Homo sapiens: one gene and its partners. The protein of the gene in region 4 purifies or fractionates together with the protein of the main gene of each other region. This does not show direct contact. Each region holds a gene or a part of one and is shown on either strand. Other genes may lie near its edges.

Region 1 (3,500 bases), on a different chromosome or scaffold from region 4:
AAACTGAAAAGTATGTAAGTTGCATATGCTAAATTTATGTATTTAGGAGTGAAAGAACCAGTAATCCAGAACACAGTATATTTGTGTTCTGAATATTCACAATTTAAAATGCTTTGTTTTAAAAACAGTTGGCTAGCTGGGTGAGGTGGCATATGCCTGTAGTCTCAGCTAATAGGGAGGCTGAGGCTGAAGGATTGCTTGAGCCCAAGAGTTTGAGTCCAGCCTTTGCAACATAGCAAGACCCTACCTCTAGAAAAAGCAAAGGAAAGAAAAAAAATACGGATAACTCAAATTTACTTTTAGGAATCTATAAAAGGGAAACAAAAACATGTCCACACAAAGACATGTACCTGAATGCTTATAGCAGCATTATTTATAATAGCCCCAAACTGGAAACAATCTGAAAGCACCATAAATTGGTGAATTAAACAAAATGTGCTATATACATTCAATGAGGAACTATTTAGCAATAAAAGGACCAATTTGTGAAACATGCTACACCATTGATGAACCTCAGAAACTATGCTAAATTAAAGAAGCCAGATGTAAAAGACTATATATTGTATGATTTTATTTATGTGAAATGTCTGGAAAAGGCCAGTATATAGAAAAAGAAAGCAGATCTTTCTTGCCTAGGACTTGAGGTGGGAGCGGGGATTAGCTACAAATAAGAACTAGAGAATTCTTTGGAATGATGGAAATGTTCTATAACTGGATTGTGATGATGGTTATACAGCTCTATCAATTTACTATAATCAATTGAATTGTATTTGTACAATAGGTTAATTTTATATATGTAATAAATCTTTTTAAAAATAAAATTTCTCTATAGTTGAATCATTTGAAAACAAAAACCACAGAACTACAGAAATTTAAAATTGGATTCTGAACCACTCTCTAAAGTTTTAGGTTTAGTCTTGAATAGTTTAGTGGATGTCAACAAAAATTTGTGTTAAGAGATTTAAAAGAAAAGATTTTCAATAACACATCCTCATTTATTCTAGTTTTCTAATTTTTCTTTTTTTATGCTTTCCTTATTTTGTTATTGCATATGATTTATTCAGTAACTTCAAATATTAAAAGGTAGTGTTTAAATGATAAAACTTGTATTTATTAATCTTTATACTAGTTCTCTTCTGTTCTTTAACTTATATATTTAGCTAGCTGGATTTTTTTTAATTCACTGTGTGTTCTAAAAACATGTAAGTAAATTTGATTTTTGTGAATTAAAACTGTTTAAAAAATCTCAGAATCTCATTATTTGATAACTGAAGTCTTGCTGTAAATCTGGATTTTTACATATTAGATCTCCTTGGATGGAGTAAGAGTTATTAAAGTATTATCATGTTTTTTTCTTTGCAATCTGAATTTTTCTCCAGTGTTTCTTCTTTTGGAAACTTTTAGTCAACCTTAACTAATTAGTGGGAATCATTGTTATAGATAGTATTCCAAACACATATTTGGTTTGGGACTGCAAACTGGTTGACTGGTTAGTTGTAAAATAATAGCAGTCTTGCTAAATCATAGGCAAATGTTGCTTCTCTGGTGCGTTTTTTGATCACACAAAGTGATGACGATGTCTAGAAAACATTTTGAATAGCAGAGGGAATCCAATTGGATATTAAACATTTCCATTAGCGTTCAAAATGTACATGATTAAGAACTGACCATATAGTTAATGTGACATTACTTATAATTTTATGTGCTAGACAATGCAAGTGATACTTGCATAATAATGTATATTAAAGTGGCATGAATTTTGGTAGGATTTTTTTCTTTTTTTTGTTGTTTTTGAGACAGAATCAGTCTCCTGAGTAGCTGGGATTACAGGCGTGCGCCACCACGCCTGGCTAATTTTTGTATTTTTAGTAGAGACGAGGTTTCACCATGTTGGTCAGGCTGATCTCGAACTCCAGACCTCATGCTCCACCCACCTTGGCCTCCCAAAGTTCTGGGATTATAGGTGTGAGCCACTGTGCCCAGCCTAGGATTTTTTTCATTCATTAGAGTAGCTTCGTTCTTTGTCTGAGCTGCATAGTTGACTGTTTAATAGTGTCTAGGAAAACCTCAAAGCTGCATTGGAGTCTTTTTATCAGCTTTGGTAAGTTACTTCAGACTTTGTATGAATCTTCTCAGAGACTTTGTAATTATGACCGAATTGCCCTTTTTGGCAGAGGAGGAAGAGGTTTTCCAGAAAGCCAAACCCATGATGTAATAAATTAAAACATTATTCTTTCTTTTCATGAATTCATTATGGGTGCAAGTATTTAAATTTTGTCTTATAAGAGGCTAGATTGGGCAGGCTGATTTACCCAGTTTACTTAACTCAGTTAAATAATTATACTCCCTTAAGTCTATGGGATGAAGGATAAAATTATTTAAATAATTTAAGCATTGGTTGAGTCACTTTGGTCATGACCTTGAGCTACATATTATTCTATCATTAAAAAAAAAATCTGCCATTACCTTTTTAACATTTGGAGTTATAATTATACTACTAAAATTTATAAAAGGGAAATTTGGATGAGCTGCTTATGAAAAGATCTTGTCCTGCTTATACTTGTCATTCTACAAGGAATTTCCCTAACTGCTATTTGGATATATTGTTCAATACATATTTTGGCAATTTTCAGATTATTAGGTCTCTCTTGATCTCTCCAGATTTCTATTCATGGATGAAGGTAAAAATTTTAGATATCACTTGAGACCCTGTTAGATGAAATAGAGTAGATATATACCTTTTAATGGAAGAAGCCAAATGCAGAATAAGACGTAAGCAAAACTAAGTTTCTTTAAAGTATGCTGTGTGTTAGTGGCATTTTAAATTGTTAAATCTCTCATATATGTATATGTGTGATTATATTTTACATTGTTTTTGCTTCTGCCTTTTTCTCTGTACCGATACTCAAGACACCTTTTTTAGTTTTGATTTAGAAGGACTTTAGGAATTAGTTCATTCCCTTCATTCACTAAGCATGAATACCTACCATTTTCAGCCCTGTATGCATGAGCAGTGCAAAATAAATATATTTCCTGCCTTCAAATCACTCACTGTTTGGAGATATTAGAATCTCCTAGCTTAATCTGTTGGATTTTTCATAGTTTTATGATTTTTAGATTCTTTTCCTGCTTGTTTCTTGATCTGTATTGACCCCTTAAAAGATCACCATACTGTTGTTTTTTGAGTTTTAGTAGAACATTTCTTTCATAGTGGAAAATGTTGTTTCAAATATAATCTTTTGTGGGTTAAATATTACTTAGTGGAACCCTTAAGCAAAGGGTCAAAAAGTCACTATATTGTTGCCTGAGGTGGACTGTTCACAAGAGACAGAAATAACCCATATAGAGGCCTTACGTGTCAAAGTTTACAGCTCTTGATTTCAGTCTTCTTACAAGCATTGAAATTAATGCTAAGATGTGATATGCCTAAAAAATTTGGTATCTAGAGTAGGAATGACAATCGTAGTGTCTAAAAAACCATTTTTCATAGAATGTCCTCA
Region 2 (3,500 bases), on a different chromosome or scaffold from region 4:
TTTCTCTCCTCTTTGAACTTTGCTTCATTTCTCACCAAAACAGTCCATCCTTCCAGCAGCCAATTAAGGAAAGGAAGAAAGACTCCTAACCAAGGCCTCAGTCCATAGTGTGAAGCTATGAACTGTGAAGTGGCATCACCAAGGAATTCTGAAACTCTTCAGCCAGCAAATACTTCCATGTCCCAGATCTCCACCATGTTTGATCGCAGCTTAATGTATCCTCTCTTGTCATCTATCTTTTTACTTTCATCTTCTCTGCTTCTTTTCCCTAAGTCAACTTCCCAGTGTTTCTCTTCCTCACAATGTCTCTGCTCCACTTTCTGGAGCTTTGTTCATGATAAACACCTCTGTCCTCGACATCTTCAATGAACACACTCCCCTTGATATCCTGACTTCAACTAACTAAAGATGCCTTCTGCCTATTCCCTGTCAAATGGAAGCTACTTATTCCCCCAAATCTCACAGTTCAGGTTAGGTGCCGGGTTCAATATGCTTCCAATGCTGCTTCCAAAGTATGATTCATCCTAGAAATGCTGAGGTTCATGATGCTCAACTAGTCTTTGGTCCTAGCTTTCAGTCATTACCCCACATTCAATGACAACTTCAGCACCCAACTCGGTAACTCAGTATGTCTCTCTGTCCCAAATCCCACCATGAGATTAAAAGGCATGAAACGAAAATATTCTTTCAATCCCTAGAGATAGACATGAAGCAAACGAAGGAAGACCTTTGCCCATACAAAAGAAGCCTGACCCCTATCTTCTTTATAGTCAAAGTAATAACACAGGACCCACGTTAGAAAACTTACTGCGTCAAATGTTAAAGATTTTATGTCTTCGGTTGCTCCTGAAATGTCCTTATGAATAAAATCCACATTGTCTGGCCACTCTTCTACATGACTTAATTTCCATGAATCACGCCAGTGTTTGTAATTCTTCTTAGCCAGATCATGGTGGTCTTTTCGTACCTCAAAACTTATGACTCGTCCTTGTGATCCAACTTAAGTAAAAAATAATTTGATATTTCATAATATTAATCAGTTTATTAAAAAGTGTCAAAAATGTATTTTGCAAAGGTACTACATGTATGTGAAAAAAATAATTCAAATAGTTCAATGTTACAAGTCTGATCTCCTATCCCTGATCTCCAATTAATCTCCCTCCCTCTTCAGAGGCAACCACATTACCAGCTATTTACCTTTCCCATGATAGTCACTGCCTATACAAGCATGCCAAGTATCTCTCTGTGTTTTTAATACACACTGTGGTGTATTATACACACTGTCCTGTACCTTCCTTCTTACTTACCAATGTCATTTCAGTGCTTCTAGATGTACTGCATTCTTTTTTAACAGGCATTATATTCACTGTATGGCTACGATGAACATTTAGCTTGTTTCTAGTCATATGCTAATATAAACAATACTGCAATGAAAATTCTTATACCTAAGTCTTTGTATCAAGCCAGTATATCTCTACAGGATAAAGTCCTAAAAATGGAATTGCTGGCTCAAGGGGTATGTGAATTTATTCACATAATATTACATTGTCCTCCACGTAAGTGGTGTCAACTTATATGCCAACCAGCAATGTATTAGAATACCTGTATCTCAGGCCGGTCGCAGTGGCTCCCGCCTGTAATCCCAGCACTTTGGGAGGCCGAGGCGGGCAGATCATGAGGTCAGGTGATTGAGACCATCCTGGCTAACACGGTGAAACCCTGTCTCTACTAAAAAAAATACAAAAAATTAGCCAGGTGTTGTGGCACATGCCTGTAGTCCCAGCTACTCGGGAGACTGAGGCAGGAGAAAGGCGTGAACCTGGGAGGCAGAGATTGCAGTGAGCCAAGATGCGCCACTGCACTCCAGCCTGGGTGACAGTGCAAGACTCCGTCTCAAAAAAAAAAAAAAAAAAAAAAAGAATACCTGTATCTCCATACTCTCCCTAAGTTATTGAACTTTTTATCTGTATCAATCTAAAAAGTGAATAAAGTTTATCATTTTTAATGTAGATTTTTGAGTTTGGTTTTTTTTTTTTTTTTTGAGACAAGATCTCACTCTGTCACGCAGGTTGGAGTGCGGTGGTGCAATCACAGCTCACGGCAACCCCCACCTCCCAGGCTCAAGCGATCTTCCCACCTCAGCCTCCTGAACAGCTGGGACGACAGGTGTGTGCCACCACACCCAGCTAACTTTTTGTATTTTTGGTAGAGACAGGGTTTCGCCATGTTGCCAGACTGGTCTCAAACTCGTGAGCTCAAGCAATCTGCCTGCCTCGGCCTCCCAAAGTGCTGGGATTACAGACGTGAGCCACCATGCTCAGCCTTTTAATGTAATTTTAACTTGCATTTCTTTTATTATGGATGAGGTTGAGTCTTTCATATATTTAAAAGGTATTTGTGGCCGGATACAGTGGCTCGCCACAGTAATCCCAGCACTTTGGGAGGGCAAGGCAGGCAGATCACTTGAGGTCAGGAGTTCGAGACCAGCCTGGCCAACATGGTGAAACCCTGTCTCTACCAAAAAATAAAAAAAAAAAATTAAAGGTATTTGTATTTGTGTGTGTGTGTGTGTGTGTGTGTGTGTGTGTGTATGTGAAGAACTTTTAAACTAATTAGCACAGTAATACTGCAATTCCAGAGAGGAGTACTACATTTTAACTTAAGGCAATTAACTTTCCACCCACCTCTATCTGAAGTGATTTGATACCATTTGGAGATTATCCCAGATCAATCAGTTTACAGTTTACTAATGAAGTTTAAATTCCAAGGTATCTTTTGAAATGTAACTCCAACTGCAAGTTATCAGGTTCTCAGGAGATAAAAATTAATTTTAATAGTAACATAAGCTGGGCGTGGTGCCCCATGCCTGTAATCCCAGCACTTTGGGAGGCTTAGGCAAGATTGCTTGAGGCCAGGAGTTCAAGACCAGCCTGGGCAACAGTGAGACCCAGTCTCTACAAAAACTTTAAAAATTAGCCAGCTTTGGTGGTATGTGCCTATTGTCCCACCTACTTGGGAGGCTGGGACGACAGGATCACTTGAGTTCCGAGGGTCAAGGCTGTAGTGAGCCACGATCATACCACTGCATTCCAAACTGGGGAACAGAGTGAGAACCCGCCTCAAAAAAAAAAAAAAAGTAACATAAACAACTGGAAAAGAAAATATGGAGAAAAATATCCATCACATAGGTAAATAGCAATAAGTTCTTGCACATTTATAGTTTAGGATTATTCAAGCCATGACACTCTTCTGATACTATATATTTTAGAAATATAGGCACTTATCTGTTCTCACCAATTTTTATAAATCCACTTTGTCAAATGAAACCGTGCAGTTAGGAATTTGTCATAGATGATGAGAAAATGACTGCCTTTAACTATGTACAGAAAAGTCAAACAAAAGATTGATTGAGGAGCCCAGAATGAATTTACCGGCTTAGTATAATCTAGATAATATTCATATGTGAAGACATTAGGTCAAAGAACAAAAGGTGTGAGTTT
Region 3 (3,500 bases), on a different chromosome or scaffold from region 4:
AAAAAAAAAAGAAGAGAAACCAAAGTAAGAGTCTGGACCTTTGGTTCTTGGTGAATTCACTAGGAATTGCCCAGGACAAACTGATGCCCTCCTGGAGAAGATAAACAAGGGCTTCTGACTTCAAAAATGAGCCAACCAAGGAGAACCTCTATGTACCTTACCCTGGTAGGGGCACAACTGCTGACAAACAGAGCCATGTATCTAATTGTTAACTTCCCACAGCAACCTGTACAGCCCTCCAGAATGAAGAAGTTTAGTTAGCTTGTTATAAGGTTAAAAAAAAATCCAAGTTCTCATATCAGGTTTCATTAGGATGACCAATCATACATTCTTAAGACTAAAGACACTTGGACCTGGTCCTCTTCCTGGTAGACCAACTTTGAGCTGTTTAAAAAAAAAAAAACAAAAAAAAAAACAAAAACTGGGGTAAGTGGGAAATGCCCGGATGTTTCCCCTTCTCCAGCAGAGCTTGAAACAGTAACAGCAGCAGCTGCCGCCACTGAGCACTGGGCCTTCTGATCCTCACCTCAACCTGCCAGTGAAATTCCCCATTTTAGAGCGGGGCAGTCTCTGTAGTTAAGTAGCTTGCCCAAGGCCACAGTGACAGAGCTGGGAACATGAGATCATATCAACAAAGCAGCAGGAATGCACCTAAATCAGATAAGATGCTTAACATTTGGCAAATCTTCCACTTAATAAATGGAGCTTCAATACTGACATGATTCAGCAGCCAAACTGACATTTTTTAGGATAAGGTAAGGCGAGCGTGTTGCAGTATCATCTCCAATCAGCTTGTAGGAAGCCTCAACTCTTCCCTGCCCCTATGGCACTCTACTCTGAGGGTGAAGAGTGCTTACTTGTGATCAGAGAATTCATGATGACATGGGTAGCTTTAGCCTTCACCACTGGGACCTTGTCCACACTGTCAATGGCTGATGACAGGGTCATGGCAGGGGAGGGTAGACTGGCCTCTCCTTCCTCCACCTGTTCAAGAGAGGTACAGTACAGAAGCACTTAGGCAGGGCAGGGGAGTCACACACCTAAACTTACTCCTTTGGGGAGGAAGTTACTGAAATAACATTAATCTGGTAAGTGAGGAAATCATTGAAGGGAGGAGTTGGTCATCTCCACCCAGCTAGATAGGTATTATCCATAGAGACAACAAAGAAAGACATTAGGTGAATAGTTTACATTTATAAAGGTGGGAAAGCCAGAATTTGAAGCTCTGACGTCTACTACCTTCCCAGACTATGATCTTCCGATATACTATAGTACTATGCCCTAAGAATGCAGAAGAAATGCTTATTACGAAGCACTGACCACATCCCAGGCACTATGCTAGATCTTAATTGATGAGAGCACTGGCTAAGTGGTTCTGACCCTGTGCCAGCCATTAGAACAGACTGCCGGGCTCCACCTCAGAGTTTGATTCAGTAGGTCCCTGTTAGTCTGGGGTGGAGTTCAAGAATTTCTTTCTAATAAATTCCCAGGTGTTACTGATGCTGCCGGTCCCAAGACCACACCTTGAGGACCACTGCTCCCAAGGTTCAAGTAATGGTCTTTTGAAACAAACAAAAAAAATCTACTTAGCTCCTCATTTTCAACCTGCAAGAGCTGGCAGCCTCCACCTTCTGCAATCGAAACACCTGATACCTTGCTCAGGCCTAGCAGGGAGGAGAGAACAAGACTTATTCTTTATTCTGTGCTTGTCTGGAAGAACTGAGAAGAAAGTAAGATGGTTGAAAAGGGGGGACAGATAAAAAGTAATGAAAAATGTTGTATCCTTACTACAAAACAGAATTTATACCTTTAAGCTGTGACCTTGAGTAAAACTTGAGCCTGTTTCCTTACTGGGAAGACGGTTGATTCCTAACATGGGGAGAGTTAGGGCAAATGAATAGGATCGCATGCAATGAGTCAAGCGGAGCTCTCCTTTGGAGCAGCTGTTCCAAGCCATCAGCTGTTCCAGCTGAGGCCCAGAAGAAATCTGGAAGCCCGCTCATCCCTTGCCTTGTGGAGCCATCAGCAGGGTGTGTGGCCTGGCAAGCACCACCAGAAGCCCTGCTCACCTCCTGCTCTGGACCCTAAAGCCCATTGCTCTGACATCACAGGCAAGCTGCAGCAGGCCTTTTCTCCCTGCACTTTTGCTACTTGTTACATGGAATACTCTCCCTGAACAACTGACTGGGTCATATTTCAGTAGATAATTGATAGAGGGAATATCCCCCAGAGCTGTAGGGGCACTTTCTTAGAAAGGAGCTGTCTGCCCTGAAAGTCTGTTGGAGGCGGGGGGAAAAACACTCCTTAGAAATTATCAAATATGGCTCTACTAAGAGAAAGTTAAGCAGGGAGCCTGCAGTCATAATATCAGCTACACAGCTAATACACAATGTGCCAACCCTTTACATCCCCTGACTGAATCCCCACAACACCTCTATGACATAAGGTATTCCCAACTCTCAGAGAGAGACACTGGGGCTCAGGGTAAAGTTGTGTGCCCAAGGTCTTGCTAGGGCAGACCACCTGGGACTCACACCCAGGCCTATTTCAGTGGACCCTTACTGTGTACTGCCTGTCAGGCCCTGAGCTACCATGTGGCTCAAAGTTCAGAGAAACTGTAGCTACAGGTTAAACAGCCTTACGTGAACTTGGCGGGCCTACTTTATTCAGGCAACAGTCTAGCCTTTCTTGTATTCTTGGTGGCTGGAGAGTCAGAGGGGAGAGAGTCCCTGAGGTCGGGAAGCAGAGGCTCCAATAATGCGAACCTACGAAACTAGACTGCACGAAGGACTGTGAGGTATGTTCGGAAGGGCCTTAGGAAGGAGGCAGTTCTTACAGAGGATGGCCATGGGCAAAGGCAGCTGAGGCTGGAGGTACAGCATGAGGACAGGTACAGCATGTGTTCAAGAAAGGGCCAATTTTTTTCCCCAATCACAAAATGAGCAGTTTTTGGGAATCTATGCCAGGCCATCGGCTGGATCCTGCAGATAAGAGTACAAACCTAGACATGGCCCCTGTCCTCAGGAAGCTAATGGAGGGCGAGAAAGCAATGCAGGGATGACGACGGGGACCATGGTACCGTGGGGAGCTCAGAGGGAGAGGTGATGGCCTTATCAGGAGGACGGAGATGTCAGGAAAACTGTCACAGAAGAGACTTTTGAGCTAAGACTTAAAGGATACCAGTTTTCAGGCAAATGGAGTGGGAGAAAAGGTGAGAGGACAGGATGTGGATGGCAAACATCCTAAACAATCAGGGCAGTGTGAGCCAAAAACTGACAGGCAGAAAATACGCTGCTAAGTGCAAGAATTTTAGGTAACTTGCACAGTTCAAGCACTGGGTAGGGGAGCTGGAGAGATGCAGGCAGGACTTAGATCACATGGACTGTGGATCATGCTGAGCTTGGATTTAGCTCTGTGGGGAATATGAAGAGTCTCAGGAGCAGACAAGGCCATTCTAGTTTTGAATTAAAAAGAAAAAAAAAAGGAGGGAGATTTAAAAA
Region 4 (3,335 bases):
CCAGGAAAAAAAGTGTTTCAATGAGCGCCTCAGTCTCTGTGAATGCGACAGAGACTCTAGCTCTTAGTTTCCATGTGGCCTCTCACCGTCTGACCCAGGCAAGGCCATTTACCCTCCCTCGAGCCTTAGGTTCCACATCTCTAATACCCACTGTCAGTCACGCAGAGATCCAGAGCCAGCACTCAAACAACCAGCCTGTGGAGCTGGGAGCCTGGGGTTACGTACCAGCTTTGTGATGTGTGGCAGGTGACTAAACCTCAATGATCTCAACTGTAAAATGGGAAGGACAGTAACAAAAACATCCAAAGGTGGCAATGCATATAGCATGCTGGGAGTTCTGAAGTGATGCCAGTGTTACTTCCGGAGGGCTAAGGGGATGGGCATCAGAGGCTGACCTGCTGCAGGTTCCCACCAAGGTCTCTGCGTGGGGGAGGACACACCTATTTACAATTCTTCATGCTAGTCTCAGCTACTTGATTTCTGCTCCTCCAGACACCTTTGCTGTTGAGCCATCATAAAAAAAAATGCAGGGGATGCAACAGCTGGACCCCCCACCCCACAGCCTTGCTCTCTGACACTTCCGTATGCATGGCCTTCCCCTTCCCCACCCCATTATCTTCTTTCCGGAATCAACACCATGTTATGTTGAAAGTACCGTATAATTTTGCCTCCTCCACCAATTTCTGGCTCCTCTGCCGTAAGTTCTCAGTGTCTGCCAAAGCTCGTTTATATTTTTCCTAAAAGAGAAAAAAAGGGATATTTATATATATATATATATATATATATCTTTTTTTTTGAGACGGAATCTTGCTCTGTATGTCGCTCAGGCTGGAGTGCAGTGGCATGATCTCAGCTCACTGCAAGCTCCGCCTCCTGGGTTCACGCCATTCTCCTGCCTCAGCCTCCCGAGTAGCTGGGACTACAGGCGCCTGCCACCACGCCCAGCTAATTTTTTTGTATTTTTAGTAGAGATAGGGTTTCACCGTGTTAGCCAGGATGGTCTCCATCTCCTGACCTTGTGATCCGACCGCCTCGGCCTCCCAAAGTGCTGGGATTACAGGTGTGGGCCACCATGCCTGGCCGGGAGATTTATATTAATATGGAACAAAGTCATAGGAAAGCGAGCTTGATTGGAAAACGGCTGTGTAACTAACTACAAGTCAAAACAGAAGTAATATCACTGCCTTTGAGATGTGACTAAGGAGGGCAGCTTAATGAAAGCTTAATAAAAGCTGCACTCATGATCTTTTGCTATGCTGTGTTACCCAGAGGTGGCTCAGTTCAAACATTCCTTGTGTAATCATCATCTGAGTTCTAGTATATTCCTCATGTCTCACCACCTTCCGGTAAGCTCACTCATCTGAGCCTTTTTTTTTTTTTTCTGAGACAGGGTCTTGCTCTATCATCCAGGTTGAAGTGGTGTAATCTCGGCTCACTGCAGCCTCAACCTCCTGGGCTCAAGCAATTCTCCCACCTCAGCCTCCTGGGTTGCTGGGACTACAGGAGTGCACCACCACGCCCAGCTAATTTTTAATTTTTTTTAGAGATGGAGTCTCACTATGTTGCCCAGGCTGGTCTTGAACACCTGGGCTCAAGCAATCCTCTTGCCTCAACCTTCCAAAGTGCTATCAGAGGGGTAAGCCACTGCGCCCAGCTAGCTTTTCTCTTTTTAACATTTACTAAGTTGCTCTGTGGGGGCCTCTATACTGCATCCATTTTCAGTCTTCAGGTAATCACTGTACAGTGGCAAGGAGCAAGAGCTCCAAGTCCAGGGGGTTCTAGTTCGAGCCCTGGCTCCGCACCTGGCAGCCAGGATTAACATATGTAACGGGTTTGGAATGGTGCCAGCACTCAGGGTTTGATGTCTTTCTCAAATCCTTAAAGAACTTGATTTGTGCCACCTATGTGTTTTCACATGGAGTAATAATCCATGTTACTAGTTCATAAAACTCCTACCTGCCTATGAGAGCATCACATAAAACCACACTCCTGCTCCCAACTCTTGTACTTGCAATTTTCTGCTTCCTCTCCTAAGTCCCAGCCTAAACAACCATACTGAGCATTCCTCATTTGTAAAGATGATTTTAAGTTTTCATTCAATGACAAATAACAGCGTGTAAAGATTAGTCTCTTGCCAGAACCAGAGTTGCACAGGATTTGGGTTTTAGTCTTTGCTTTGGCAGTAACTTGCCACCTGGGCCCACTGCAGGCCATGGACAACGGCTTAACTCTGGCTTTAGTCTGTCACCAATGAAACCTGGAACCTTTATGTGGCCCAGGAGAGAAACAGTTCAGCCGAGCCCGCCCCCACAGGAGCCTCACAGTCCTCACCACAGTCTCCTTCAGCTGTTCCTCCAACTTGACCTTCTCTTCCAGGAGGGTCTTCTCTGTAGCAGGAGGATCTGCCTTCTGTTCACTCTGACCCATGTCCTCTTCCAGGTTCTGGCCACTGTTCTTTTGTTTCGTGGCTGTGCACAACAACCGGGGAGATGGCCTACAGGGAAGTCCACACGTGAGAAACGAAGACTTAGTTTTTGTGCTTATTAAAGTCAGATGTATGACTTTAGAAACTTAAAATAGCTTCAAACTATTTACTATTACTTGGGGAGAAAACATTTCTGTTAGATCTAATAAAGGCACACTGTACGTGACATATAGAAGCTATATTAGTAAATATAAAAGCTGTAAGTCATATACAATGTGCCTTTATTAGATCTAAGATAAACATATATATATTTTTTTAGAGACAGGATTGGTCTCTCTCTATATATCTATCTATCTATACATCTATCTATATCTATATGTATTTCTTTTTTTTTGAGAGAGAGAGTCTTGCTCTGTCACCCAAACTGAAGTGCAGTGCAACCTCCGTCTCGTGGGTTCAAGGGATACTCCCACCTCAACCTCCCCAGTTGCTCGTCACCACACCCGGCTAATTTTTGTATTTTTAGTAGCGATGGGGTTTCACTATGTTGGCCAGGCTAGTCTTGATATCCTGACCTTAAGTGATCTGCCCGCGTTGGCCTCCCAAAGTGCTAGGATTACAGGCGTGAGCCACCGCGCCTGGCCTCTCCATGTATTTTTAGAGACAGGGTTTCGCTGTCACCCAAGCTACAGTATGGTGGCACAATCATAACTCACTGTAACCCCGAACTCCTGGGCTCAAGTGTTCCTCCCACCTCAGCCTCCCAGAGTGCTGGGATTACAGGCATGAGCCACTGTGCCTGTCTTTTTTATAAGATCTTCTGTAAGTACATGCCTAAACTTACATGTCAATGTGCCAAGTTACAGTACTTGGTACAGAACAGTACTAACCTCCTCTTTCCATTCTAAGG
Region 5 (3,500 bases), on a different chromosome or scaffold from region 4:
TGTTGTGATTTGTCTTGAATTCTGACTTGCCTGAATTACTAAGCAAGTCAGAATTATTGTAAGGCAAAATATTTTATAAGATAACCTGGGCTTTTACAGTGTTTTCTTTGGTTTAGAAGTGTTTATACTAAATAATGGAAGTCTCCTCTGTTGAGGTTTTATTCTTATACCATGTTTTGGCAAACATTTTAAAATGCTTTTGTGTGTGTATTTAAAACATTTATATTTGCATAAATCATTTACAGGTACACGAGTCGATGATGCTAAGGCACTGATAGCGGACAGTGGACTTAAAATACTTGCTTGTGATGACTTGGATGAAGCTGCTAGAATGGTAAATTGGCCATGTTCATCTAAGGAGGATTTATAAACACAGATTCTAAAATGAACCTAATTATTAATACAGCTAATAATTTGTGTTTCAGCTAAATATTATGAGTGTAATGAATGGTTAAAGAAAACGATTATTCATGACTCTTGCTGAAAGATGTTAAGGCAGACTTTATTCAGAGGGACTGTTGCAATAAGCATAGAGACTACTGCAGTGGAGTTTTGCAGTAGGGGAGAAAGATTGGGCCCAACTCCAAATACAGCAAGGAAAAGTGGGAATTTATAACCAAGGAAGAGGGTCGGGGCAGTGGATGAAAAATTACTAAAAGGATACATTATGGGTAAGGGAGGATCCTGGCTAAACTGACTTAAGCAAGATTCTTGGTAAAATTGGACTATGCAGGGACAAATACAGAAGTCCAAAAGTTAGGGCCAAGTTGAGAAGAGAGTTCAGAGTAGCCTTTGGGAGGCTGAGGCAGGAGGATTGCTTGAGTCCAGGAGTTTGAGACTAGCCTGGGCAACATAGGGAGACCCTATCTTCACACATGTGCGCACACACACATGCACGCACACACACATGCACGCATATGTATGTATGTGTGTGTATCTATCTATATATTCGATAAATATATATTGAAAAAACAAAAGAGAGTTTGGTCAAGGAGAGAATCTTTGTCAGAACGTCTTATATCTGTGATCATCTTAAACAACGGTCAGCTCCTGCCCAATCTTGTTTGTTGTTTTGTCTGTATTCTTACTTCCTCCCACAACTGTGATTATTTTCAAGCAAATCCCAGACATTATATCATTTCATACATTTCATCATGCATCTGTAAAAGATAAAGGTATTGATAATGGTATAAAAAAATTACTGTTACTTGTTTTAGGTGGGGTAATGGTATTATGGTTATGTTTTATAAAAATACAGTCTGTTGAAATTTCTGAGTCTCTTATATCTTTTGTTTAAGTTCTTTGTAAGGGTCAGAATAAGTCTCTGCATTGTAGTTGGTTAATATGTCAGTAAGTTTCTTAATCTGTTGGTTTCCCCTTTTAAAAAGAAAAGTATTTTCTGTGGTTTATTTGTTGAAAAATCCAGGTTGATGGTCTTGTTAAGTTTCTCATAGTCTGGATTTTAATGGTTGCATCTTTAGGCTGTCATTCATTTACTGTGTTCTCTGCCCTCTCTGTGTTCTCTGCCTTGTGTATTTCCTGTAAACTGGGAGTTCAGTCTGTAGGCTTGACCATATTCATATTTGATTTTGGGGAGCAGGGAACAAGAATATTTCATAGTAGGTGTTTAATTTCATCAAAACGTATACAATGTTAATCTTTTTGTGGTATTACTAGCCATTGACATCATAGCTTAGATCCAGTATTTTGTTTGTGTTGCAAAGCGTTGCTATTGTAATTCTGTCATTCTTCACTTATTATATGTAATGCTTCTAAAAAGTAATACTTCCACGTGTCAACCATTTGTTACCATGGAGTACATTTTGCATAGGAAAAGTAGGATAATTACCTGATTATTTGCCTTTATTGACCAATTTTCAAAATAATGTTTGTTCTATTATGTCCAATAAAGGTGACCTAGGGTTTTTTTTGTTTTTTGTTTTTTTTGTATTTTGTTTACTTTTTGTTTTCAGGTGTGTGTGTGTGTGTGTGTGTGTGTATTGTGCGTGTGTGCATACACATGCATACACATGTGTGTTCCACTGGCATACTGTTTTGAACTTATGACTTAAAACATTGATGTAGTTCAGTTCATGTAAGTTGTGATTGAAATTGTCCAACCTTTGGTCTTTGGGAACCTCTTCAGGTTAACTGTTGCATCCTTCTGAGAAGCCCTCTATCTGGTATGATAAAATGTTTCAGGCTCATCTTTACGTTTCTTGAGTCAGAACTTGAATGGGCCAAATGGTATTTAGAGAGCACAATTTGGCCTTATGAGTATTCATAGATACTGGGTTGATTATTGTTTCTGAGCTTTTTAAGTGGCAAGTCTGAGAAAACATGTATTTTTTAAAGAGGTAATACTTGAGTTCATACTGATATTTTCAATGCAAGTCCAGGAGTATAGATTTTTTTTTCTTATCTGACATCTGTTTGTACCTTCGTTCATGCCATACTATCATAATTATTCATTTGCTTTGTCCCTTAGTACAGATATGACAGTTTTATAATAAGAATACCAACAGTCTGATTACTGAAAGCAATTATATCTGCATTTCTTTCTGTCCTTTAGGGTATGTCCCACAACTTAGTGGATTTTAAAATTCATGTGAAATAATTCTCTGTGTGTTTTGTCTCAGCTTTGTATAGTTTCATTGTTTTTAAAGGGATTGCTTTTTTTAAAAAAAAAAAAACACAACCTTTTGTTTTTTATTTTGTATTTACATGATTCCAAAGTGGAAAGTATAGAACAAGGTATTATCAGGGAATCTAGCTTTTATATATTTCCCTCTTTACTTCTTCCCCAACAGGCAACCTTTTTACCTTTTTTTTTTGTTTGTTTTTTAAGAAAGTTTTGGTTTATCTTTCCACTTCTTAAAAACATAAGCTAATTGTATGTATATAACTATATGTATGTGTGCAGTAGTCCCCCCTTATCTGCAGGGAATGTGTTGCAAGACCCCTAGTGGGTGCCTGAATCACAGATAGTTCCAAACCTGTATATACTGTGCTTCTTCCTGTACATATATTCCTTTGATAAAGTTTATGTATTAGACATAGTAACAGATTAACAACAACTAATAATAAAGTAGAACAATTATAACAATATACCGTGATAAATGTGAATGTGGTCTCTCAAAATATCTTATTGTTCTATACTCACCTTTGTGGTGATAATGAGATGATAAAATGCTTACTTGGTGAGATGAACTGAGGTGAATGATGAAGGCATTGTGACATAGTGTTAGGCTACTACTGACCTAATGATGTAACAGAAGGAGAATCATCTGCTTTGGTTCATCCTGGATCATTGAGCCATGATGTTGATTGTTGGATGTCAAGAGTAGATAATGTTGATGACTAATGGAAGAGTAGTTTATACAGCGTGGATACGCTGGGCAAAGAGATGGTTCACATTCCACTTGGAGCAGGATGGTGCAAGATTTCATCACACTTCTCAGAACAACACACAGTTTAAAACTTAATGACTTTTTTATTTC
Region 6 (3,500 bases), on a different chromosome or scaffold from region 4:
CCTCACATGGTATACCTTTCAGGTTCCACTATGGAAGAGTAATTTTCAAGTTCTCTGCCATTTTTCTAAAATTGTCAACATTTCCAGGTACTCTGGTAAATTTGTTTTAAGGAAAAGGAAGCTTAAAATGTGATAATTTCCTAATCAACACTTCGGTACTGCAAATCAAATCCTTAAAGATTTACCTTCATCATACATTTCCTCTATCAAATAGGCCTCTGCTCGATCTTTCAGGGCATTCACATTGTCAGGTTCCATCTGTAAAACTTCAGAACAAACCCTAATAGCTTCAACAGGCTTCTCGTCCTAAAAGGAAATGTGAGACAAGGATTTATGGTTGGTATTCCACATGTTGAGTTTTCACATTTCTGGGAACAAGTCAACTGTTACCTTAGAAAAGCAGTGGCAAATCCTCTCCTTTGAACGAACTGTATATTCAGCAATGCTTGGCTCTGTTTTCATGACAGATTCATATTTGCTGGTAGCATCTGTGTATCTAAGAAATGAGCAAATCATGATAAGAAATGATGACATTTGATTTCCAGAGCTGTAGAAAGGCTCCTCCCCTCTTCACCATGTGTTGCTTAATCAATCCAATTGGATGAGCCCATGGCTTCAGATTCGGCTTTTCCCTTATTAATCTAGAGTCCCATAGAAGGTACACTCCATAATTAAGAGTTAGGAAATAAAAACATATGACCATAGGAGATGCAGATGGACAGAACAAAGCATACCTGTGAGTATAAGTACCAATCAAACCAGAAGAATTTCCTTACAGAAACATTGCTCAGAATTCCAAACCTGAGTAAAACACCCTGTTGAAGTCTGACTTACACTGAGCACCTTGAACAATACAGAGATCAAGTTTTATTTCTTGGTCAGTAAACACTTCCATGAAAATAATGGAACCCATTACGTGCCATTTTATATAATTAATGTCAGTATTTACAACAAAGTACAACGTAGTTCACACAAAAGGTACCTGATTAAATTCCCAACTGTATAAGCTTTCTAAGAATAAAAGCTATTTCAGCATTTTCTTTAAACCAGTAAAAAGTACTAATCCTGTTATATACTCAGTTATTTCCCTCAACAATAGTAAAGTAAAAAATATGTTTCTATGCCATGGTGGCACACTATTCCCAAAGTGCTACAATCTTCATATGTAAATATGCCAATGTATTAAAACACAGGCTTAACTAAAACATTTAAAATAAAAGCCAGCTTCTCTATCATCCTCAGCAAACTAACGCAGGAACAGAAAACAAAGCACTGCATATTCTCACTCATAAGTGGGAGCTGAACAATGAGAACACATGGACACAGGGAGGGGAACATCACACACGGAGGCCTGTGTGGGGCAGGCAGCAAGGGGAGGGAGAGCATCAGGACAAATAGCTAATGCATGTGGGGCTTAATACCTAAGTAATGGGTTGATAGGTGCAGCAAACCACCATGGCACACGTTTACCTATGTAACAAACCTCCACATTCTGCACATACATCCTGGAACTTAAAGAAGAAAACAAAAAAGCCAGCTTCTGGGAAAGTGGAATAGATGTATTTGTCCCAAGTGCTCCAGCTAAGCACAACTAAAAAACCCTAGAGATTATATGTATATTTTTTAAAATAGAAAACTTTCAAAGGAGGAAAAGAGACAGACTAGCTAGTGACTCAGGACCTGAGGAAAACATGGTAAGACGTTCCCTGGGTTCTTTTTTTTTGTTTCATATATCCCAGACTTGGAGCTGAAGATTCCAGCAATGCAGAAACGCCAACAGGTACAGAACGACAATAACAAAAACCTGCAGAAGTCTGCTCTGTCTAGCCAGAGGACCTGAAAAGGACAGACTTGCAAACAGAAAACATTTTTTTTAGAGACGGAGTTTCGCTCTTGTTGCCCAGGCTGGAGTGTAATGGCACAATCTCGGCTCACCGCAACCTCAACTTCCCGGGTTCAAGCGATTCTCCCACCTCAGCCTCCGCAGTAGCTGGGATTACAGGCATGCGCCACCACGCCCGGCTAATTTTGTATTTTTAGTAGAGACAGGGTTTCTCCGTGTTGGTCAGGCTGGTCTCAAACTCCCAACCTCAGGTCCTTCAATGGATAAATGGTTAAACAAACTGCAGTAAATCCATACCATGGAAACTACTCAACAGTAAACAAGGAGGAATTATTGATACAATATGGATAAATCTCCAGACAATTCGAATGAGGGGGAAAAAAGCCCATCCTGCCAGCTGTGGTAGCATGCATCTGAAGTCCCAGCTACTCAGAAGGCTGAGGCAGAAGGATCACTTGAGTGTACTATGACTGTATCTGTGAACAGGTGGGCAACATAGTGAGATTGTCTCAAAAAAAAAAAAAGCCAATCCCAAAAGTTTATACATTGTATGATTCTATTTATGTAACATTCTTAAAATGACAGAATTCTACAAGTGAATAGATTAGTGGTTGCCACAAGCTAAGGAAGGGATAGGAACAAGAGGGAAGTAGGTGTGGCTATAAGGGCAACATGAGGTGTCCTTGTTGGGATGGAATTATTCTGTATCTTGACTGCACCCACGTCAATATCCTGATTGTGACAATGTACTATAGTTTTGCAAGGCGTTATAGTCTGCAAGATGTTGGGGGAAACCGAGTGAAGCATTCTCATGATGGCAACTTACAAAGCTACTAAAAGTAGAGGAATTGGAGCCTATTTTCTATTAGGCAGTTTTGTCTGCAGTGCCCTCTACTCTTTTCAGTCCTCCTGCCCAGCCTATAAACCCCCTACAAACAACACTCACACAGACACAGCCTCTTACTTCTGTCCACTTTTACTTATTCTTTAGGATTAGGATTTAAATATCTATCACCTTCTCTAAAAAAAAAAGCTCCTCTTTTACTCCTTGCCTTTACCATCCTGGTTTGGAGTAAATACTCCTCTTTGGTACTCCAATTATCCTATGTACATTCTATCACTTTGGTATCATATTGTCTTTTAATAATCAATTCATATATTTGTCTCCCACGCAATGCTATAAACTTCTTAAGAACAAAAACTATTGTCAAGTTTAAGTCTGCACCCTCAGTACATAGCTCAGCCTGATATAGGAGATAATAAATATTTGGTATAGTACAAGTAATTCTGCTGGTAAGGATACTACACAGTTACTATTATTTATATTCTTCCCTATTCCAAAAATGTCCAATTCTGGTAGTTTTGCTAAGGCCCAGGGCTATCTAGAATACCCCACCCTCAATGGCTGAGAAGTAAAAGAGCAGTTCTGTAGTTCACTTGTGCCCACAGCCCCGCACATAAGGAATGGCTGGACAGTTGGAACAACCATATTCTCACCTGCCATCTCTGATGAGCTCTTCAGCTGACTCAATCAGCTTATTAAGTTTCTTTACTTGTTTATAGTGTGCAAAACACCTTTTATGATCCTGGTCAAGTTTAAGACATTCCCGAACTTCACTGTTCATGTATTTAAAAAAGGAAAATACTCCATGTCAAA
Region 7 (2,403 bases), on a different chromosome or scaffold from region 4:
CCTCGCCCGAAATGCCAGCCCACCTCCCTCCTCCAGAGGCCCCTGGGCTGGCCCTTCTGATGTCCTCAGGCACTTCCTGCCTGTGCCCGGTGCCTGCACCTGTGCTGCCAGGAGCAATGGCATGCGCACGAGTCCGTACCCAGGGTACAACCTTGAACACTAAGGAAGCCGGTCTCGGGGCATTGACTCTGGAGATGTGGAAGCAGGGGGATAGCAGAGGCGAGACCAATCTGGGTACAGGGCCCAGGTGCCAGCAATGTCTCTTGCTCCCCCAACCCCTGACACAGGAACTTCCTGTACCTCAGACCTAGCCTCCATGAGACAGGGGGCAAGGGAGGGACAGGATGCTGCAGACATCCCCCCAACCCCCTGCGCACCTTCACGTTCATGAGGAGCTCCCAGAAGTTGCGAGGGGGCAGCACAATGGTGGTGTTGAGTTCGATGACATAGCACTTGTCCAGGGAGATATCATGGTACGCAGTCAGACCCTGGCAGGAGAAGGGGTTGGGTCAGTCTCTGCAGGAGGTGACAGCTGACCCAGGCAGGGCTGCAAGAAGCTTTGGCCAGCCAGGCGCGGTGGCTCATGCCTGTAATCCCAGCACTTTGGGAGGCTGAGGCGGGCGGATCAAAGGTCAGGAGATCGAGACCATCCTGACTAACATGGTGAAACCCCGTCTCTACTAAAAATACAAAAAATTTGCCAGGCGTGGTGGTGGGCACCTGTAGTCCCAGCTACTCGGGGGGCTGAGGCGGGAGAATGGTGTGAACCCAGGAGGCGGAGCTTGCAGTGAGCCGAGATCGTGCCACTGCACTCCAGCCTGGGCGACAGAGCGAGACTCTGTCTCCAAAAAAAAAAGCAGCTTGGCCAGCAGGGGCAGGAGTCCCACCATGCCTTCCTGGGACCCTGGGCCTTCAGGAGCAGAGTCCTCTCCAGACTCCTCAATACCTGGGCGGGCACTCCCTTTTCCTGGTCTTCTCTTAGCCTGTTGTAGAAGGTGCCACATGATAGAGGAAAATAGCAGCTGATTGCTAAACGCCTCTGTTGTTATAAAGCTTCTTCTCATGTTTACAGAGCTGAGGTTTGGGGAACATGGTAACATCCCAGCTGTGCATTTATGAAACCTGTGAGGGCCAGCCATTCCTGGGACAGCCTGGACCCCAGCGAGAGATGCCCTGTCTCAGGACCCATGGGGGTTACATGAATACGCATGAGACCCACTCTGCAGAGACCCGCTGAGCTGTACACGCAATGCACTCGATGGTGAATGTACTACCCCTCGATACAACGCACTGGCCCTGCCATGACAGCCAGCGTGCAGCTGGCAGGAGGCTGAGGAGAAAATCAGCCTCGGCTGCTTCATACTCAGCAAGAACCATTGTTGCTAACAGGAGAAAAGCAGTGTCTTGAAGACCCTGGTAAGCCTAACCGTAGACACCTGCTGTACTCCGAGGAGTCTCCTTTCATCCCTGCTCCCCTTGCCCTGAGTCCCCGGGACACCCTCCCACCCCCCACCCCCAGGCCCTGGCCAGCCTCACCCGCTGGAAGTCATGGATGATGTCTGCAGGGTCACCGCCGCCAAACTGGGGCACAGGCACGTTGATGCGCTCGTAGTTCTCGTCGAGGTAGATTTTCACATCCTCTTCCAGCTCCATCTGAGTCCGGACCTGGGAGGACAGGGAGTCCTCATACAGCACACCACAGCGGAAGAAGTTATCTCGGGCCAGCTGAGCAAGGCGGAGAGACAGACAGACAGTCAGAGAGGCTGGTCATACACGCACTCCGTAAGGCCCCCTCTTGCCTACCCGTCCGCTACATGCCCCAAAAGCCTGCGGAAGCAAGAAGAGCAGGGACTGTGAGACCCATTTCGCAGATGGAGAAACTGAGACGGTGGGGCATCAGGTCAGGGTCTGGGGCTGCCAGTGAGGAGATGAGCTGATTCTTGGGCAAGGCGCTTCCCAGCTTCACAAACGGAAGGGAGGATGAGCTGGGTCTGCCAGGTTCTAGGTGGCAGACCTCTCTGGGCCTCAGTTTCCCCATCAGTAAAGCATGATGATCCCTAAGGTCCCTTCTGGCCTCCAAGTCCTTGAGTCGGTGACTGGGAAAAGGGGTGGCCCAGCAGGACTAGGACCTGGCCACCTCCGTGCCCTCCACAGAGGTGCAGACACCAGAGAAAGAGCCTGGGGTTGGCAGGGGGTCAAGGACGAACCTAAGAGTTGGGCACCTACGCCTGTGCACGACTGCCTTTCCTGTCACCTGCTGTCCTGGCCTGCAGACCTGGAGGGGCCTAACACGGCGGGTGGGGAGGTGGAGCTGGAGGCAACACTGTTAAGAGTCTTGTGCCCCTATCACGGTTACCTCCACATCCAGCCTCGGACAAGTGCCATCGCCCTTCCTGGATATCC

The links.
Region 1: the proteins of GRPEL1 (region 4) and DNAJB4 fractionate together in Homo sapiens (co-fractionation; one large-scale study listed by BioGRID). This does not show direct contact.
Region 2: the proteins of GRPEL1 (region 4) and TRMT61B purify together in Homo sapiens (co-immunoprecipitation; one large-scale study listed by IntAct). This does not show direct contact.
Region 3: the proteins of GRPEL1 (region 4) and KIAA1191 purify together in Homo sapiens (co-immunoprecipitation; one large-scale study listed by IntAct). This does not show direct contact.
Region 5: the proteins of GRPEL1 (region 4) and SUCLA2 fractionate together in Homo sapiens (co-fractionation; one large-scale study listed by BioGRID). This does not show direct contact.
Region 6: the proteins of GRPEL1 (region 4) and DNAJC3 fractionate together in Homo sapiens (co-fractionation; one large-scale study listed by BioGRID). This does not show direct contact.
Region 7: the proteins of GRPEL1 (region 4) and ITM2C purify together in Homo sapiens (co-immunoprecipitation; one large-scale study listed by IntAct). This does not show direct contact.

Annotation. Positions count from the first base shown.
Region 1 is NC_000001.11:78,007,939-78,011,438, forward strand, and holds part of DNAJB4 (dnaJ homolog subfamily B member 4), read left to right. Parts: intron 1-3,500. UniProt on the Homo sapiens protein: Probable chaperone. Stimulates ATP hydrolysis and the folding of unfolded proteins mediated by HSPA1A/B (in vitro).
Region 2 is NC_000002.12:28,860,310-28,863,809, forward strand, and holds part of TRMT61B (tRNA (adenine(58)-N(1))-methyltransferase, mitochondrial precursor), read right to left. Parts: intron 1,000-3,500; coding exon 809-999; intron 1-808.
Region 3 is NC_000005.10:176,351,765-176,355,264, forward strand, and holds part of KIAA1191 (putative monooxygenase p33MONOX), read right to left. Parts: exon of another isoform or gene 1,808-3,500; intron 1,665-1,807; exon of another isoform or gene 985-1,664; coding exon 858-984; intron 1-857. UniProt on the Homo sapiens protein: Potential NADPH-dependent oxidoreductase. May be involved in the regulation of neuronal survival, differentiation and axonal outgrowth.
Region 4 is NC_000004.12:7,061,730-7,065,064, forward strand, and holds part of GRPEL1 (grpE protein homolog 1, mitochondrial precursor), read right to left. Parts: exon of another isoform or gene 3,154-3,335; intron 2,495-3,153; coding exon 2,332-2,494; intron 738-2,331; coding exon 656-737; intron 1-655. UniProt on the Homo sapiens protein: Essential component of the PAM complex, a complex required for the translocation of transit peptide-containing proteins from the inner membrane into the mitochondrial matrix in an ATP-dependent manner.
Region 5 is NC_000013.11:47,945,774-47,949,273, reverse strand, and holds part of SUCLA2 (succinate--CoA ligase [ADP-forming] subunit beta, mitochondrial precursor), read left to right. Parts: intron 1-245; coding exon 246-334; intron 335-3,500. UniProt on the Homo sapiens protein: ATP-specific succinyl-CoA synthetase functions in the citric acid cycle (TCA), coupling the hydrolysis of succinyl-CoA to the synthesis of ATP and thus represents the only step of substrate-level phosphorylation in the TCA.
Region 6 is NC_000013.11:95,760,639-95,764,138, reverse strand, and holds part of DNAJC3 (dnaJ homolog subfamily C member 3 precursor), read right to left. Parts: intron 3,461-3,500; coding exon 3,341-3,460; intron 497-3,340; coding exon 391-496; intron 307-390; coding exon 186-306; intron 1-185. UniProt on the Homo sapiens protein: Involved in the unfolded protein response (UPR) during endoplasmic reticulum (ER) stress.
Region 7 is NC_000002.12:230,874,942-230,877,344, reverse strand, and holds part of ITM2C (integral membrane protein 2C), read right to left. Parts: intron 1,726-2,403; coding exon 1,537-1,725; intron 489-1,536; coding exon 378-488; intron 1-377. UniProt on the Homo sapiens protein: Negative regulator of amyloid-beta peptide production. May inhibit the processing of APP by blocking its access to alpha- and beta-secretase.